Linked DNA regions of Homo sapiens: region 1 is linked to region 2. Evidence: fine-mapped expression QTL. A gene starts in region 2. The other region holds a variant in brackets. All regions are shown on one strand. Distances are from middle to middle.

The links. PIP is the estimated chance that this variant, and not a neighbour inherited with it, causes the effect.
Region 1: its variant is fine-mapped to the expression of MRPL28 in testis (GTEx, PIP above 0.99).

The regions. Positions count from the first base shown.
Region 1 is chr16:286,755-295,455 of GRCh38, forward strand. It overlaps PDIA2 (protein disulfide isomerase family A member 2), which reads left to right. Exons shown (of 11, transcript NM_006849.4): 10 at 81-191; 11 at 315-461. The coding sequence ends at 359. It overlaps AXIN1 (axin 1), which reads right to left. Exons shown (of 11, transcript NM_003502.4): 8 at 6,734-6,964; 9 at 4,436-4,543; 10 at 2,686-2,853; 11 at 686-1,494. The coding sequence ends at 1,368. Among named protein-coding and RNA genes, the nearest start is that of PDIA2, 7.9 kb to the left of the region's middle. The variant C/T (reference allele first, on the strand shown) is at 3,930.
Region 2 is chr16:365,779-374,479 of GRCh38, forward strand. MRPL28 (mitochondrial ribosomal protein L28) reads right to left here and starts at 4,760. Exons shown (of 6, transcript NM_006428.5): 1 at 4,721-4,760; 2 at 4,153-4,447; 3 at 3,290-3,442; 4 at 2,723-2,857; 5 at 2,550-2,636; 6 at 1,191-2,004. The coding sequence starts at 4,440. The coding sequence ends at 1,897. PGAP6 (post-GPI attachment to proteins 6) reads right to left here. Exons shown (of 13, transcript NM_021259.3): 10 at 8,443-8,621; 11 at 8,227-8,373; 12 at 6,833-6,949; 13 at 5,010-6,505. The coding sequence ends at 6,209. RefSeq lists an enhancer at 6,490-7,061.

The sequences.
Region 1 (8,701 bases), 79 kb before region 2:
GGGGAGGAAGCCGGGGTGCCATCTTGCTGGGCATGGGGCTGGGCCCCACGTGTCCTCCAGATCCCCCTGCCTCTTCTCAGGTGATTGAATACAAAAGCACCAGGGACCTGGAGACTTTCTCCAAGTTCCTGGACAACGGGGGCGTGCTGCCCACGGAGGAGCCCCCGGAGGAGCCAGCAGCCCCGTTCCCGGTGGGTGTCCCTAAGCCAGGGCTCCAGGCCTCTGCACAAATCCTCTTTACACAGGGCTGGCAGGGGCGGGGGCAGGGGTAGGCTGGGAGCAGAGCTTCGAGCTGCACTTGTGACCCTTTCTAGGAGCCACCGGCCAACTCCACTATGGGGTCCAAGGAGGAACTGTAGCTGCCCCCGTGTCACCCCCGCCATCACTGCTGGACAGGAGCCACCCCCTTGGGTACCAGAGGGAGCTGTGCATTGTGAATAAAGAGTGAGCTTGGTTCTGGACTCTGTGTGCCTGGTCCCTCAGCAAGGCTGGCCTGATGCAGCTCTGCCCAGCTGGGGGCTCCAGGGCAGGAAGGTGGAGCACGTTCCTGCTCTAGCCCTGCCAGCCTCTGAGTCACAGGTGATCCCCATGCCTGCTGGAGGCCAGTGTGCCCTCCTTTACCACGGGGGCTGAGGCTGGGAGACCTAGGCCAGGCCCCACCCGCAGAAGACACACCACAGCCAGGGCAGGTTCAAAAACAGTTTTATTTCATTATTATCCAAGTACCTTTGAAAAGATAATTAATTGTACAAGTGTCATCGCATGAAAAACAGACTCGGGCAGCCCCTGCTGGCCTAGCCTGAGAAATGTACATATTTACACGGGCCCTCAGAAAGGAGGACCCAGGACTGCACAGCCGGCGGCTGGAGGCAGGTGCAGTGCTCCGTCGCCGATTCACACAGTGGCAGGCAAGAGACAAGCTGTGTTGAAGGCACTCGGTGGCGCGTACAATTGACAGAGGCCCTGCAGGCCTCTGCATCCGGGCCTGGGCCCCACCCAGACCTGGGTACGTGGGCAAATCCCAGAGGGAAAGTAGATCCCAGCACACGTGCCCAAGGGAGGTGCCGGGGGATGGGGGGGGGTCACCTGAAGCTGGCAGCAGGGACCTCGGCTGCCTCACTTGGGCTGGGCCCTCCAAGTATTGCTATGAGGAGTGGTCCAGGCTGCCTCCTTGGGGGCAGGACAGAAGCTTGTGGACCACTTGGAGGGACCCCCTACCTGCCTCTAGACACGGGTAGACCACAGGGATGGGTGGTACACCCAACACTGTTCCCCATCGGGCTCCTGAGTACGAGGTCATCTGCCTGGCCGTGACACCCGTGCCCGCCAAGGGCCTCGCCTGGCACAGCGGCCAGCCCACCAGCCTATCAGTCCACCTTCTCCACTTTGCCGATGATCTTCTCCTCAAAGACGGGCAGGACGGCCTCGTCCTCTCGAACCTCCTCAAACACCACCCCACAGTCAAACTCGTCGCTCACTTTCTTGAAGTAGTATCTGCAGGACGGAGGTGAGGAGGGCAGTGAGCAGGCAGCACCGCAGATGGGAAGGAGGCCTGTGGCAGGGGACGGCGTGTCCACACCCCATCCCGAGGAGCCTCCTGTCCATGCCCCACGGCCCCCACTGCATGTGCGCCCCCTCCCAGGGCAACAGTGAACAGTGCAATGACCACATGTGGGTGAAGTGGGCAGCCATGGGGGGTGAGTTCACTGCCTGCTGGGAGCACCCCACATCCCCCTGGGAGTACCTGCCCCAGCCTCTCAGGAGTTGCAGGGGGGAAGTGGACGGGTGTGGGGTGTCTGCTTCCCAAGGGCTGAGCCCCGTCATGGAGGTGACCCCAACTGGGGCCCTCCCTCAGCACCACATCTGCAGTCATGGGGTGTTTGCACAGTGGCTTGTGGACGGTGGGAACCACCCGCCAGGCTCTGCCAGGCTCTTGGGGTCAGGCCCCCTCTGCTCACCGCCCAGTGCTCACTCGGGAGCCTCCAAGGCTGGCTGCACGCAGGGCCCTGCAGGGCTGAGTGGCCCAGGGCGAATGAACCTTGGTAGGAGGGGGCTTGGCTTTTCAGTCAGGCAAAAGCACATGAGTCCAGAGCCTGGAGACAAGGTCGGCCTAGGGGAGCCTAACACAAGGTTCAGACCATCGTCGTCTAGGGGTCTGGCCTCTGTTTTCCCACCCCGAAGATGAGGGCCCTGGACGGGGGTCCCTTTGGACCCTCTCAGTCCTGTGGGGCCGAAAGCCTGATGCCACCCTCAGCCTAGGGCTTGGAGAAGTGGCTTTAGTTGCAGATGAGGGACATGAGCTGAAATGGCCGGAAGCCCTTTTTCTTCTTTTTTTTTTTTTGGGCGGGGGTAGAGACAGAGTCTCGCTCTGTCACCCAGGCTGGAGAGCAGTGGCGTGATCTCAGCTCACTGCAACCTCTGCCTCCCGAGTTCAAGCAATTCTGCCTCAGCCTCCCAAGTAGCACACCTGGCTAATTTCTTTAGTATTTTTAGTAGAGACGGGGTTTCACCATGTTGCCCAGGCTGGTCTCGAACTGCTGAGCTGAGGCAATCCGCCCACCTCAGCCTCCCAAAGTGCCAGGATTAGGACGTGAGCCACTGTGCCCGGCTGGAAACCCTCTTTTTCATACCGTTGGGCACCCACATACTCGTGCGGGGAGGGGGCACCCCAGCCCTCACACTCACCTGTAGCTGCCCTTTTTGGTCAGCAGCTCCTTGAACTGGCCCAGGGTGACAGCGCGGCCCCTCACCAGGGTGCGGTAGGGGATGGGTTCCCCGCAGAAGTAGTACGCCACAACGATGCTGTCACACGGCTGGGCACTCCCGCCGCCCACCTTCCTCTGCGATCTTGTCCTGGGGAAAGAGATGCAGCGGTGGTACCTGGTTTTGGACTGAGGTCCCACAGGGTCCCTCCTGCTGGCCTCAGGCTGCCAGTGTAAGGCGGGGCAGGCCTGCAGGGGTGAGCAGCACCCCATTCAAACACCTGGGGCCCGCAGCCCCCGCACAGCATCTCAATCTGGGATCTAGTCCGCTAGCAGTGGAGTCGGCTCCGCTCACTGGGAGCACGAAGGTCTCCCTGCTGCCTCACAGCCCCACCCTCGACTGGCCAGGGCCTGGCTGCCAGGTGCACTGCAGCTCCCACCTCTAGGATGGCAGGGCAGGCTGCAGGGCTCCTATCTCAGGAAGACCTACGGCCCCCAAACCTTAAAAACATCTGAAGGGCAGGGATTGGACAAACAGAACTGTGCACGATTTCTGGATAAGCCTGACCCCGCAGCGAAGTTTGTCGGAGGACTGGGGCGGGGGTGGCCAGCAGGCCCTTCAGAGGGGGCAGGGCTGGCACCGTCTCCTGCCCAGGCTGAGCCGGGCCCTCCTCTGACAGGTGCTGTGCTTCCACAGCCGTGCCGGGATGACGGGCGGGGCCTGGTTGCTCTCGCACCCCCCACTCGGCTACCCCGCCGCCACCTGTCCTTCAAGTGACTCCAGAAGCTGCCCCTGGCCCACTGGGGTTCAGCCCTTGGGCCTCCTCCTGGCTGGGTGCACCAGAGGCTTCCAGAGCCAACACCAGGGCAGGAAGGCCTCATGGCCACCTGAGCCATGTGACCATCCTCTTTGCACACCAGGCCCCCAGCCACGTGCGCTCTTAGACGTCCTCCCAGTGCCACATCCTCGGAGCCTCCTGGAGCCAGGCCCATCAGAGAAGAGCCAACACGTGGGGGCTGCCCCAGGGACAGGTGAAGGCTGCCCCAAGACCGCCTACACGATGAGGGCCACAACAAACCTGCATCTGGGGCAAGCCTGGCAAGGCCTGGGGGACCCTTGTTCTCAAGGCCCCTTTTGGGGTGTGCCCCCTCCTCCTGCCACCTTGAGCACATAAAGGCGCCGTCGACACGGCCCATGTGGGATCACATGGTCTGAGCCCTTTCTCA[C/T]GGGTTCAGAGCAGTCAGCATTGTAGGTGGGAGCAGAGCCCCGACTCACTGACTGCACGGGCTGGACAGACACGCATGGCTGAGACCCACACTGCAAGCAGACGCACCCCGGGCACCTCAGCACCTGCAGCCCCGAGCCTGGTCAAGTCAGGCCTGGCAGGGACCGGCCCGTTCCAAGCCGGGTGGAGGCGCAGGCAGGTCTCTGCCCCACAGGAAGCCTGGCCGTGACACCTGTGTGGATGCAGGGGCTGGCTGTGCCCAGGCCTCCAGCCGGGCCTTTTGGTCACTTGTCATCATGCTGGACAGTCAGCGTCTCCTTTGATGGAGACAGGAGAAGGCTCTCGGGCAGCTTCGAGTCTGATGCCACGGGACCCTCTCCTGCCACAGCTGCTTCTGAGCGTGGTACCCGAGCTCAAGCCCCGGGACGGCGGCTCTACGATGGGACCTGGCTTGGGACGCCAGGGCTGGGGTGGGCAGGACCGGGAGGACCCTCAGGACGCACGTACTCTGTCTCGGAGAGCTCCATGTCCGACACGGCTGGTACCACGTGCAGCACCGGCGCGCACGCTGGCCTGACGCAGGCGCGTCCCCGCCGCATAACCTCCTGCACATACCTAGGGAACAACCCGCGTCAAAGGTGGCTGTGCCGGCGGCCACCAGCCCTGGGGAGGGAGCCTCGACCAATGCTGCTGCGCAGGGACGGACGGAGCGTGAAGGGCCCGAACAACCCACCCTGCGCAGGCTCCAGTTTGCAGGGTAGACAAGACACCGAGTCCCCTCCTAGGCCTGCCTTGGTGGTACCCGATACTGCAGCGCGCCCCACATTCATGATCCCGGCACCAACCCCCTGAGTTCCCTGGACCGCACTTTGGGGAGCTTCCGATCAGGGGTGCTGGGATCCCACCACCTCATCCCCTCTGGTGGGATGACATCTCGTCCCGAGAGTCTGTCCTTCAGTCTCTTGGCATGAATTCCCCACCGATAGCGTGGACACTGGCTCTGGGGCGTGCGTGGCAACTCGGTCTGCACCTCAGGGAGGCTGAGGGCCCCCCGGCGCCACAACTGAGGCCATCCTGGGGCAGCACAGCAGCTCCTCTCACGTGGACACCTCCACCGGGGTACACTGGGCGACCTTGATGGTGGTTTCTACTCTGACATCCTGACAGGGCCCAGCACCCAACCTGCCTCTGGGCCTTCACTCCGTCTCCACAGCTTCTCGCAAAAACCCACATCCCCTGGACGGACAAACCCAGCAACTCTGGGTTTCCCCATGGGGGGATGCTGGAGCCCAGCAGCCAAACGGGCGGGAGGGTCGTGTCTCAGAACGGCGGGAGTGGTCCCACGGCTCAGCGGGCATCCCCTGCCATCATGTGGGGCCACGGGTACCAGGGGAAAGCGCAGACGCAACCTGAGAGACCCCTGCTCAGCCCAGCAAGGATGGCTCAGGAAGCCCCGGCAGGAGAGCCCACACACGCCCAGGGCCTCGGACCTGCTGCACACGATGCCCACCACGGCTCATCTGCCAGCCCAGTCACACGCCCCGGCTCCGAGCACCACACTCCAGGCTCCTGCATGGCAGGGGGCTCCAGCTCCTTGTTGGCCGAACACGATCACAGGGTCACAGATGTTTGGTCATAAAGTGGTCACCCTTTGGGTTTGAGGTAACTGTGACCCTTTCTGGCCCCAGAGCTGTCATTAGGCTCACAGCCTGGCAGAAGCTCAGGAACCTTTAATGACTTGAGACCACACAGGCTTTCAGCTGGGAAGGGTCTGAACCCTGATGCTGGTTCGGCAGAATAAGGCCCCTAGCCACAGCCTCCCTGGAGTGGCACAGCCCCAAAGCTGGAGGCCCGGGAGGCGGGCCTGGACCCCAGGCCCCAGGTGACCCAAGGTGGACAGGAGGAGCTGGTGACCTCTGAAGGCAACCATGGCCTCTGTGACCACAGCCCCAGGGCCTGGGTGAGCTATAGGCTCCCAGGACCCTCAAAGAGACACTGATCTGTGGGGAATTCCAATGACCCAGGATGGCCGAGAAAACTGGCCTTATGAGCAAGCTGAAAATGGAGAAGCCAGGTTCTGGCCTGGAGCGAAAATGCTGCCCACACAAAGGGGAGACCTCCCTGCAGCCCAGACAGAAGCCTCCCTGCCCTAGGGAGAGAACAGGGTCTGGCTACGGAGCCCAGAAGACCAAGGAGGGCGCAGTGAGGAGGGCTGTGGGCTGGACGTCCCGGATGAGAGAAGGGCACAGTGAGGAGGGCTGTGGGCTGGACATCCAGGATGACAAGAGGACACAGCGAGGAGGGCTGTGGGCTGGACGTCCAGGACGACACTTCTACATCTGCACGGCTTTCAGAACCACGTAGCTTTCCGACCGTGCAGAGCCACTCAGGGCTCCTGGGACGCAACTGTCAAGAGGCAGCCGCCATGCCTCCAGGACCTCTGCCCTAAAGCCCAGGCTGCCCAGCAGCGAGCAGCCTCTGGCTGGGGACCGGCGTTCCCCACACACTGGGGCCCTGCAGCCTCCCTGCAGACTGGGCTCAGGTTGAGGAGGGACCCCGCCTCCAGAGCAATGAGCGCGGCGGCCTCGGGTGTGTGAAAGCTCCAGCCCCAGCCTCCGTCCACCGCAGGGTGGCCTGCCACGTGGCCCCTCAGTGGTTCTCAGTGGATGGAAGGGCCCAGTATGGCTGGGGGACACCCAGAGGGCCGTTTTTCCCCTGAAGACCTCAGGCCTCGGGGAGCTTCAGCCCCAGGAGTGGTGCTGTGGTAACCCCCAAGACCCACCCCACCCCACGACGCGGCCGTACCTCTGCTTGGAGGGTGCTCGGCTGGCTCTCTTTTCTTCCTCCTCCAGACGTCGGCGCGCCTCCTCCAGCTGGGTTAGGGGGTTGGGAGCTGGGTGGGGTGGCATGGTGGGGTCTTGGATGAAGAGGTGGGAGGGCTGCACGGAGGTCCGGAGCTGAGGGCCGGCCCAGGGGTGCTCAAGGGACAAGGGTCTGGAGTTCTCATGGGGCTGTGGCTTCCTCGTCCCCGAAGACCTTGGGGAACAAGAGAACAAGTTGTGACTGTGGCCGACACCCTGGCCAGGTGGCCTGGTGGGGCTACACTCATCTCACAAGGGCAGCCTCCTTGAGGGATAGGATGGGATGGGGCACTGGGGCCTGGCCACCAAGCCACATGGACGTCCTCCACAGACCACACAATAAAAACATCCCGGCCAGGCATGGTGGCTCACACCTGTAATCCCAGCATTTCGGGAGGCCGAGGCGGGCAGATCACCAGAGGTCGGGAGTTCGAGATCAACCTAACATGGTGAAACCTCATCGCTACTAAATATACAAAATTAGCTGGGCGCCTGTCATCCCTGCTACTCTGGAGGCTGGGGCCCGAGAATGGCTGGAACTGGGGAAGTGGAGGTTACAGTGAGCCGGGATCACGCCACCGCACTCCAGCCTGGGTGACAGAGTGAGGCTCAGTCTCAGGAATAAAAAAGACAACAAAAAACCAACCCTCATTTGCCTGTAATCCCAATACTCTGGGAGGCCAAGGTGGGTGGATCGCCTGAGGTCAGGAGTTCAAGAACAGCCTGGCCAACATGGCAAAACCATGACTCTACTCAAAAAATACAAAAAATTACCCAAGTGTGGTGGTGGATACCAGTAATTCTAGTTACTCGGGAGGCTGAGGCAGGAGAATCGCTTGAACCTGGGAGGCAGAGGTTGCGGTGAGCTGAGATTGCACCACTGCACTCCAGCCTAGGCAAGAGTGAGACTCCATCTCAAAAAAAAAAAAAAAAAAAAAAAATGGCCAGGCGCGGTAATCCCAGCACGCTGGGAGGCCGAGGCGGGTGGATCATCTGAGGTCAGGAGTTCAAGACCAGCCTGGCCAACATGGTGAAACCCTGTTTCTACAAAAATACAAAAAGTTAACTGGGCATAATAGTGGGTGCCTGTAATCCCAGCTACTCAGGTGGGTTAGACAGGAGAACCACTTGAACCTGGGAGGTGGAGGTTGCAGTGCGTTGACACTGGCCTGTTGCACTCCAGCCTGAGCCACAGGAGCGAAACCCCATCTCAAAAAAAAAAAAAAAAAAAAAAAAAGGCCAGGCGCGGTGGCTCACGCCTGTAATCCCAGCACTTTGGGAGGCTGAGGAGGGCGGATCACGAGGTCAAGAGATCGAGACCGTCCTGGCTAACACGGTGAAACCCCACCTCTACTAAAAAAATACAAAAAATTAGCCGGGCGTGGTGGCGGGCGCCTGCAGTCCCAGCTGCTCTTGAGGCTGAGGCAGGAGAATGGCATGAACCCGGGAGGCGAGGCTTGCAGTGAGCTGAGATCAGGCCACTGCACTCCAGCCTGGGCAACAGAGCAAGACTCCGTCTCAAAAAAAAAAAAAAAAAATTCTTTCATGGAGACTTTTTTTTTTTCTTTTTTTGAGACAGAGTTTTGCTCTTGTTGCCCAGGCTGCAGTGCAATGGCTCGACCTCGGATCTCGGCTCACTGCAATCTCCGCCTCCCAGGTTCAAGCGACTCTCCTGCCTCAGCCACCGAGTAGCTGGGATTACTGGCACTCGCCACCACACACGGCTAATTTTTTGTATTTTTTTTAGTAGAGATGGAGTTTTTGTCATGTTGGCCAGTCTGGTCTCGAACTCCGGACCTCAAGCGATCCACCTGCCTCGGCCTCCCAAAGTGCTGGGATGAGGCTTCTTTTTTTACATTTTATTTTTAACAGCTTTACTGGGATACAAATTATATACTAATCCTAGAGGCCG
Region 2 (8,701 bases):
CGCTCTGTCACCCAAGCTGGAGTACAGTGGTGCAATCTCAGCTCACTGCAAGCTCTGCCTTCCAGGTTCAAGCGATTCTCCTCCCTCAGCCTCCCGTGTAGCTGAGATCACAGGCATGTGTCAACATGCCTAGCTAATTTTTTGTATTTTTAGTAGAGATGGGGTTTCACCGTGTTGGCCAGGATGGTCTCTATCTCCTGACCTCGTGATCCACCCGCCTCGGCCTCCCAAAGTGCTCGGATTACAGGTGTGAGCCACCGTGCCTGGCCTAAAATTTTTTTCAAGGTCGTTCACAGAGCAGGGGCATCACATGAAGGCACTGGTGTGGGGAGCAGCAGGACATGTCGGCAGAGGTGCCCGGTGTGGAAAGAGACCTCGGGGGCCCTCCCAGGGCTCTGAACCAGGCAGGTCCTGACCCCAGGGACCCCTTGCGGCCCCGGGAGCCACGTGCTCCCCTGCAGTCCAGCAGGGCCAACTGCAGACTCCCTCTGGACTCTGCCACAGCCCCCTTGGGAGCCAGGGGCCCCTCAATCAGCCAGCAGGCCCACGTCAGGCAGCTGCCTCCAGTTCACCCCATCCTGCCACCAGCTGGGGCTGGCTTAGGCTCAGGGGACATAAACCCCCCCTTGTCATTCTGCACATGCAGCTGGGGGAGCCCTCCCTCTGTGCTCCCTGGGAAAACCGAATGGGTCCGGAGGATCAGGATTTCCAGGTAAGGGTTGGGGGAGAGGGTCAGGTACCCCCAAAACCTCAGGGCGGGAAATGCCTTAGGGTGCACAGCCCGGCTTCCCGCTGGCCAAACCTCCACCCTGCAGGTCAGGTGGAGGTAGCAGGAGGGGACACCAAGGTCGCAGGTCCCCAAGTTCGTGTCGCCCCCACCTCCTCTACCACTCGCCACAACAGTGCTGACCAGGGAGAGGCTCCTGACTCAGGCAGCTGCACCAGCACGGCCCTCTGAGGGCCTGCCCCTCCTGGTTCCTTCCAGTACCTGCAGAGCCAGACCACAGCCTCCCTTGCCCTGCTCTGAAGAATGTTCGAGAAGGGCAGGAATGTGCAATGGAGAGGGAATGGGCATCATCCGGCTGCACCCCTGGATGCCCCCAGCTACACCAGACCCTCTACCAGAGGAAAGAAAGACACAGAATACGGCCAGGGGAGGTGGCTCACGCCTGTAATCCCAACACTTTGGCAGGTTGAGGCAGGTGGGTCACCTGAGGTCAGGAGTTCAAGCCCAGCCTGGCCAACATGGTGAAACCCCTTCTCTACTAAAATACAATTAGCCATACATGATAGCGGGGTGCCTGTAATCCCAGCTACTCAGGAGGCTGAGACAGGACAATCACTTGAACTCTGGAGGTGGAGGTTGTAGTGAGTCCAGATCGTGCCACTGCACTCCAGCCTGGGTGACTGAGCAAGACTCCGTCTCAAAAAAAGAAAAGAAAAAAAAACACAAAACACAGAATTGAACCTCGCTCTCTGCAGCTCACCGGGGGACGGGCACAGCCAGAGTCAATGCCCACGGCTCATCCGAGGTCTCAGGGGCAGCAAGGGCAGGGGTGACAGGATCAGGATCCCCAAAGAGAACACCAGTCCTCAAAGCAAAGATACACACACACAGCCTGGCCCAGACTTTACTCGCTCCCGGCCCCACGGGCACAAGGAACACTGCCGCAAACGTCGGGGCCCAGCCTGAGAGGAGCCTCTGGGCGGCCCAGGCCTCCTGGGGATCCCTGCCAAGCTGGCCCCGGGCTGGAAGGTGCATGGGCAGCACACGAAACCAGGATCCACCCACTGCCCACCGGTGGCCCTCACAGCTCCCCGGGATCTGTGTCCTCAGTGCAAAGGGCCTGGCAGGGAAAGCTGGGCCTGTTGGTCAGGCATGGAGGAGCTGTGTGGTCACTGGCCACTGGCTCTCTTCTGCACCACCGCCGGCTCTGACAGTGCCTGCTGCTGCAGCTGCTGGATCAGCTCCGCCACATAGATCTTGAACAGGGGTACAGGGTCCTGAAGGAGAGAGGGGCTCATGGTGAGGCCAGGGAAGCCCAGGGCAGCTGGAGTTCCGACGGGGATGGGATCAGCAGCTGCCGCCCAGAGGAACCGGGGCATGAGAGGCCCTGGAGGGCAGAGTCCTGTCGGTGAGATGAGGAACCCCCTCCCTTGGGGATGCCGGAGGCACACACATACCCCTGTCCCATCCCTGTGGTCATGGATAAACAGAGGGAATAGGGGCAGCCAGCTGCCATGCCATCAGGGGCTCCCTGTCCTGACAGCTACCTCAGGCTCCAGACCCTGGGATGCTGGTGGCCGAGCAAACCCTCAGTGCAGGAACCCACTCCTCCTACTGAGGGTCCTGGGACAGAACAGGGTGGGGACTTGGAGGGGAGGGAGCGGGCCATGCTCCTCTGGGTGGGCAATGCAGAGCAGCAGCTCTTCCCCAAGCCCACCCAGTGCACCAGCCCCTTGTGCAGGCTCTCTCCAAGGCAGCACACTCCCAGACCCTGAACACCAGGCTCTGGGCAGGCAGCATCGGCTGGTGCTCACACACTCACCTTCTCCTCCAAAAGTCTCTGCTTCTCAATGGCCTCCTCCAGCGTGAGGCCCACCCACTCTGCCTCCTCCTCTGGGATGGCAAATTCCTAGGCAGGCAGAGATGGAAAGGGCAGTGAGGCCCAGGGCCGGGCCACGAGTCCCCAGGTGTAGGGAGCGGGACGGAAACCCTCACCTTGTACTTGTCGTAGATGGCTGCCCGCCGCTCGGGGTCCTCGGGGTGCAGCTGGGGGTCCTGCCGGGCAAGCCGCAGCAGCATCCCTCGCTTCAGGTCCATCCCAAACTTGGAGCACAGGTCCTCCTTCGGGGTCTGGCAGAAGGCTCACATGGGGCCAGGTGCTGGTGGCAGGGCCCCACCTACCCTTCCAGCCAACCCACCTGGCTCCTCTCTAGCCGCTGGTGGTCCCAGGACAGGACAGAGAAGGCCCGGGTGGGGCCGCCTCAGCACCCCAGCCTGGGGGGTGGGATCAGCACAGAAGCAAGTCCAAGTGCAGGGAAAGGGGCGGCTGTGCTCGCTCAGGCCCCACGGGCAAGTCAGCCACCCACAGAGCGACAGCCTCTCCTGAAGGCAGGAAACCCCACTGGTGCTGGCCAGAAAGGGGCATGGCCCCACTCACGCTTTCCCAGTGACCCTCCTGTGCAGATGTCAGCGTGCCCCGGTGTGATGCTGACCTGGGGCTCCCGTGAGTCTGACTGGCCCATCCCAGACCCTGTGTGCACTGACTCGCCCCACCCCGCTTGCCTTGAGGATGTAAAAGTCGAGCCCATAAGCCTCATCGATGAGGTCCAGGGTCCGCATGGTCACAGTCACTGTGAACTTCTTGTCCAGGATCTCACTGTAGAACTCTCGCTCAAACAGCTGTGGCTTCCACACTTTCTTCAGCCTCTTGGAGAGCTGAGGGTGCAACAGAGCCTCCATGAGTACTGCTGCTTTCTCTTACATACCAAGGGGGGCCCAGGCAACTGCCCTCACCTCCCCCCCGGAGGCTCCATCACAGAACCACTGCTGTCAGACTGGGGACCTAGAGCTAACTGGGCCGGCCCCCAGCCCAGTGCCGCCCCAGCCCGACCCGGGTCCTGACTGTGTACCCAGAAGTCAGCTGCTCCCCAACAAGCTGGGCGTTCCCGCCCTGGTCACATGGTTGCTGCATGTGTTTCAGAAACATGTGCGACCCCACAGTTTACAGGTTGTCACATTCCAACCTGGAGGTGACACAAGTCTCCCCACAGGCTTCAGCAGTCCCGCCAGGAAGTCCACCACAAGCAGCCTCGAAGCTCTGCTCGCCTCCCCCACCTGCTCTGCTCGCCTCTCCCACCTGCTCTGCTCATCACACAGGCCTCCTCCCCATCCTAACTTTACCCCGACTCCCCACGGCCTCTGGTTGCTCCCCCGGCCTGAGTCACCCCACCTCACCCCTACTTTATCAGTCCTGTTTGCCAGAACTGCGGTTCTTCACTCAGCGTGCTCCTTTGCCGGAGATGTGTCGCCTCCAGGCTGTAATCCCCAGGGCCCACCCAGGTCTCTCCAGGTACCCCGGGCGTCCGGCACAGAGCCGGCACAGCCAAGCCCTGAGAGGAGCCCCTGAAGGCCGCCTGCGGACCCACCTTGTCGTTGTTGGCATATATTTGGCCCAGGATCCAGCCCTCGCCGCCCCACAACCCCCGCTGGGATTCGGGGGGAAAGTAGATGGGAATGGGCACGTCCTCCACACGCTCCCGCTGCCCGTTCTTGGGGTTGATCTTGAACTTGGCCCCATGAGGCCTATAGTGCACGGGAGTGGGCGTCCGCTCCTCCTCCAGGGAGCGCAGGTAGTGGCCGGGCAGGCGGGAACAGATGCCCTCCCGCAGCTGCAGCCGCTTCCAGAGCCACACGGGATACTTGTGTAGAGGCATCGCGAGCCTGGCGGGAGGTGGGGGCTCGCAGTCAGTCGCAGCCTGGCCAGGCCCCCGGCACTCACCCCCTACCCCGGCCCCCGACTCTCACCCGCTACCCCGGCCCCCGGCTCTCACCCGCTACCCCGGCCCCCGGCTCTCACCCGCTACCCCGGCCCCCGGCTCTCACCCGCTACCCCCTACCCCGGCCCCCGGTTCTCACTCCGGCCCCTGTCCCGCACCCACCTGCCCCTCCCCTTCTGCCCCGGCGCCCCCCCACACCCCACCTGCCCGCGCCCACCTTTCAGGGTTCAGAGCCCACCGGAACCGGAAGCCGATCTGCCGCGCCTGGCCCTCCTCCCACCGCTGACTGGCTGTAAAAGCCATCCGTCTACCCCCTCGTCCCGCCCCGCTTCCGTCTTTAGGGACCGTAAAAAACACCCCACATACAGCAGCAGCAGCTCAAGGCACCGTTAGCTACGTGCGGCCCCGGCGTTTCCGCGAAGGGCGGCACGGGCGGGGCGGTGCTTGTTCTCCCGGGCCCCACTTACCCTACCCGGGAAGGAGCACAGAAAAAATGTAAAAACTCGTTTAGTTTGAAAAATCAATGTAGAATATTAAATTCACCAAACACAGATAGATCAGATCTACATAAAAATATGTCTTAATATCTTAGAATTTTCCTTTACTCCAAAAAACCCCATATATATATGTTTCTCCTTTATAAGCTTAGAGATTGCTTTGGTGGTCAAGTGCAGGGCGGCTGGGGGAGGTAAGACCTTCAGGAAGGCCATATCCCGGACAAGACCCAGAAGGGAAGCCCCCAGAGCCAAGGGTAGGAGGGCCCCACCCGGGTCTCAGCCACTCACTTCTCCAGGGCGGATCCGAGACACTCACAGGCCTCAGGGAGGGGCCAGGTGCTGCTCCTGGTCATTGCTTCCCCCACAAGGTTTGCATGAGGAGCAGAGACAGTCCAGTCTCCTGAACACCCACAGGGCACAGAGCCCAGTGCAGGGGGCAGACACCACCGCAGCTCCTGGGACCAAGAGGAAGCTCCCAGAGGGGGGCCCAGGAACGCTGGGGTGGGTGGACAGGGCTGGGTAGGGGTTCCTTCTGGGCCAAACCCCCAGAGCAGCAGAGCACCCCAGTCCAAGGAAGCTCTTCTCAGGGACCCAAGGCTCCAGAGCCAGGAAAAAGGGAGGGGCGGGGCGGGAGCCTGCATCCCCAGTGCCCATCAGCTCTGGGGGAAACCTCCGTCTCCCGTCCCTATGGTGACCACAGCAGCAGAGGGGGATCCTCCATGCCCCAGGCAGGCTGGCATCAGGGCCACACAGGGGCCAGGAGCAGGGGTCTCGGAGTCCACAGCTCCCGGCCCCAGTGGTGGGCTCAGGGCTCCTGGGCGCCATGGGTCTCACCACAGCCTCGCCAGGGAACAGGACCATAGGGAGTCCTTCTCCCCATCTCTAGCCACCCACAGGCCAGCAGAGCACACAGCCCCACCCTCGCACAGGCACCTGTGGTCTCCAAGTAACCAAGCCCAGGCCCCAGGGGCCACTGCAGACAGCAGCTGGGATCTGCAGAGGGATCTCAGCAGCGAGCAGGCAGCTGGCGAGGAGAGGTGCGTGTGAGGGAGGGGTGGCCCTCTCCTCAGTAGGAGGAAGTAAGAGGGTATCTAGGCCAATTTATTCAGCTGGAAATCAATCTGTCCAGGGCTGGACCAGGCGCCTCCCCCTCGATACAGCTCCTGGCTGAAGAGGTCATCAGAGCAGCAGCTGTCCCCAGGCCAGTGTCACGTCACTGCGTACAGTTCCTCCCGATCGTTCTTGCAGATCTGATAGTGGCAGGGGAATTTCTGCGAGCAGGCCCAGGGCTCGGCGGGCTGGTCAGGTGGCGGCAGCAGCAAGGCTGCGCTCCCGGCCAGCAGGATGTGCCAGATGCTGTGGGTGTAGTAGTAGTTGTCGCTAGTCATCATGGAGGTGTAGATGGCGATGCCCACAGAGGCCATAGAGACGCCGGGCAGGAGGTAGAAGGCCCAGCGCTGCCACGAGGTGGGGTAGCACTGGCGCCGGTGCCCGCAGCGGTAAGCCTGGAGAAAACAGCCACGCAGGTATCAGTGCAGGTGGGGCCGCGGCTGCAGCTCCCAGGGCCCAGATACGGTGGTTACTGGGGGCCTGCCCAGGTCTGGGCAGCAGAACGACAAGGGTGGGCTGCTTCGAGGGGGCTCAAGGCCACTGGTCCTCAGGCCCAGGCCTCAGGGACACAGCCATGCTGGGCCTCTGTGGGTGCCATGGCAACCCCCAGCAGATATGGGCATTCACTGGTTGGAGCAGGACCAGGAACGTGGCTAGAGCAAGGGGCCAGGCTCTCTTCTCCGAGCACCTGGGCAGCAGTGCCAGCCAGCCCGGCTCCTTACCCACATGGAGGCCATGATCACGAAGGCAAAGAGGCAGGGCCCCAGCATGTTCCACATGCCCCTGCGGTCCAGCTGCAAGGACATGGCGATGACCAGTGTACCCAGAAGAAACAGCACCTGCGCAAGACACAGGGATGACTGCAGGGACGTCTCTGAGGGCTCAAGGCCCAGCAGGAGCACGCGTACCCCACGGCCCCACAGCACCTCTGCCTGCCCCCTCGGAGCTGCTGCCACCCTCAGACCAGCTCTGCCAGCCTCTGACTAGCTCTGCCAGCCGGCAGGGACATGCCCCTCCTTCAGCTTCTGTATTGCATCCACAGGTGAATGTGGCCAGGCAGGCATCTCTGGGGGATTAGACGATGCTCACACAAACTGGACAGACGCATATGGCCGCTCTGCACCCACACACTCACTAGCCCCCTGTACCACTGGGTTTCTAGAAGTCCCCCATCAGGGTGGCTTCAGTCTCCCACCCACTGTTCCATGGGGAGGGGCTCCCACCCCCCAGTCTCCATCAGACACCTCTGCCCACAGCCTACAGTTCTCTGCCTATCTGCAGGTTCAGGCCCCGCACTCAGCCCTGCAGGACCCTGGTGCTTCCCAGCCTCCCCTCTGCCCTGGCTGTGGGGCTCCCATGGGCACCCCCTTGGGGCAGTACCCAGCCTGCAGTTCCCAGAGCAGATGGGAGGGCAGAGCATGCAGCTCACAAGCCCAGGGCATGAGTCTCCCCTTGCCAGGGCCAGCTGCCACAGAGAGTCCCCAAAGCATCATTGGCCCCAAGGACCCAGGGAGCATGGGTGGGGGCTTCTCGAAGGCAGGGGGCCTGGCCTCCCCTGCCTACCACCTTCCTTCCTGGCATCCTCCAAACAGCTGGCACTGCCCCCTCACAACTGCCTGCGGGGTCTCAGACCCGCATCTCCGTGTGGCATCACAGAAGACATGAGGTTTCTTTTCTTTTCTTTTGTCACCCAGGCTGGAGTGCAGTGCTGTGACCTCGGCTCACTCCAACGCCTCCAATGCCTGGGATCAAGCGATCCTCCCACCTTAGTCTCCCGAGTGGCTGGGACCACAGGCATGTACCACTACGCTCGGCTAACTTTTCGATTTTTTGTACAGCCCAGGCTGCTCTTGAACCCCTGGCCTCATGGGATCCTCCTGCAAGTGTTGGGATTACAGGTGTGAGCCACCATGCTCGGCCAAGGCATTACAGGTGTGAGCCACCATGCTCGGCCTAGGGATTACAGGTGTGAGCCACCATGCTCGGCCGAGATGTGAGGTTTCCAGGGGCCGTGCCCAACGCCAGGTCCGGCCTCTCCCACGGTACTGCCTTTCGCAGGCTGCACTTGGGGGCCCTGCTCCCCCGGAGCCCACACCCCACGTCGAGGGCCACTCACGTATTTCAGGACTGTCTTGAGCCGTGCCATGCACAGGATGGTGACCCAGATGGCCGCCCCGGAGCCCAAGAAGTCGCAGTACTGCAGCGTGTCGTAGCTGAGGATGCACAGCACCGCCTCCCCGGGCTGGTCGCAGGCGTGGTAGAACTGTGGGGAGGCTCCATGAGCGCGGTCCTGCCCTCCCACCCCACATCCCTGCAGGAGGGGCCAGCCTACCGTGGAGAAGAACATGGTGTAGGCGTAGACGGAGGCCTCCACCAGGAAGAATCGCCGCACTGAGACGGCGATGGGGGCCAGGAACATGAGGTTGCTGAGCGTGAGCAGCAGTGTGGCCGCCCTCTGCTGGGCCACCGTCTGGGCTGTGCTGTTGTCCGTGCAGCTCCACCCACGCCAGCCTGCGGTCACAAAACCCCGACGCGGAGGCTGGGGGCACTGCTGAACCTCAGGGCCCACCCCTCACCCAGGACCCTGCAGA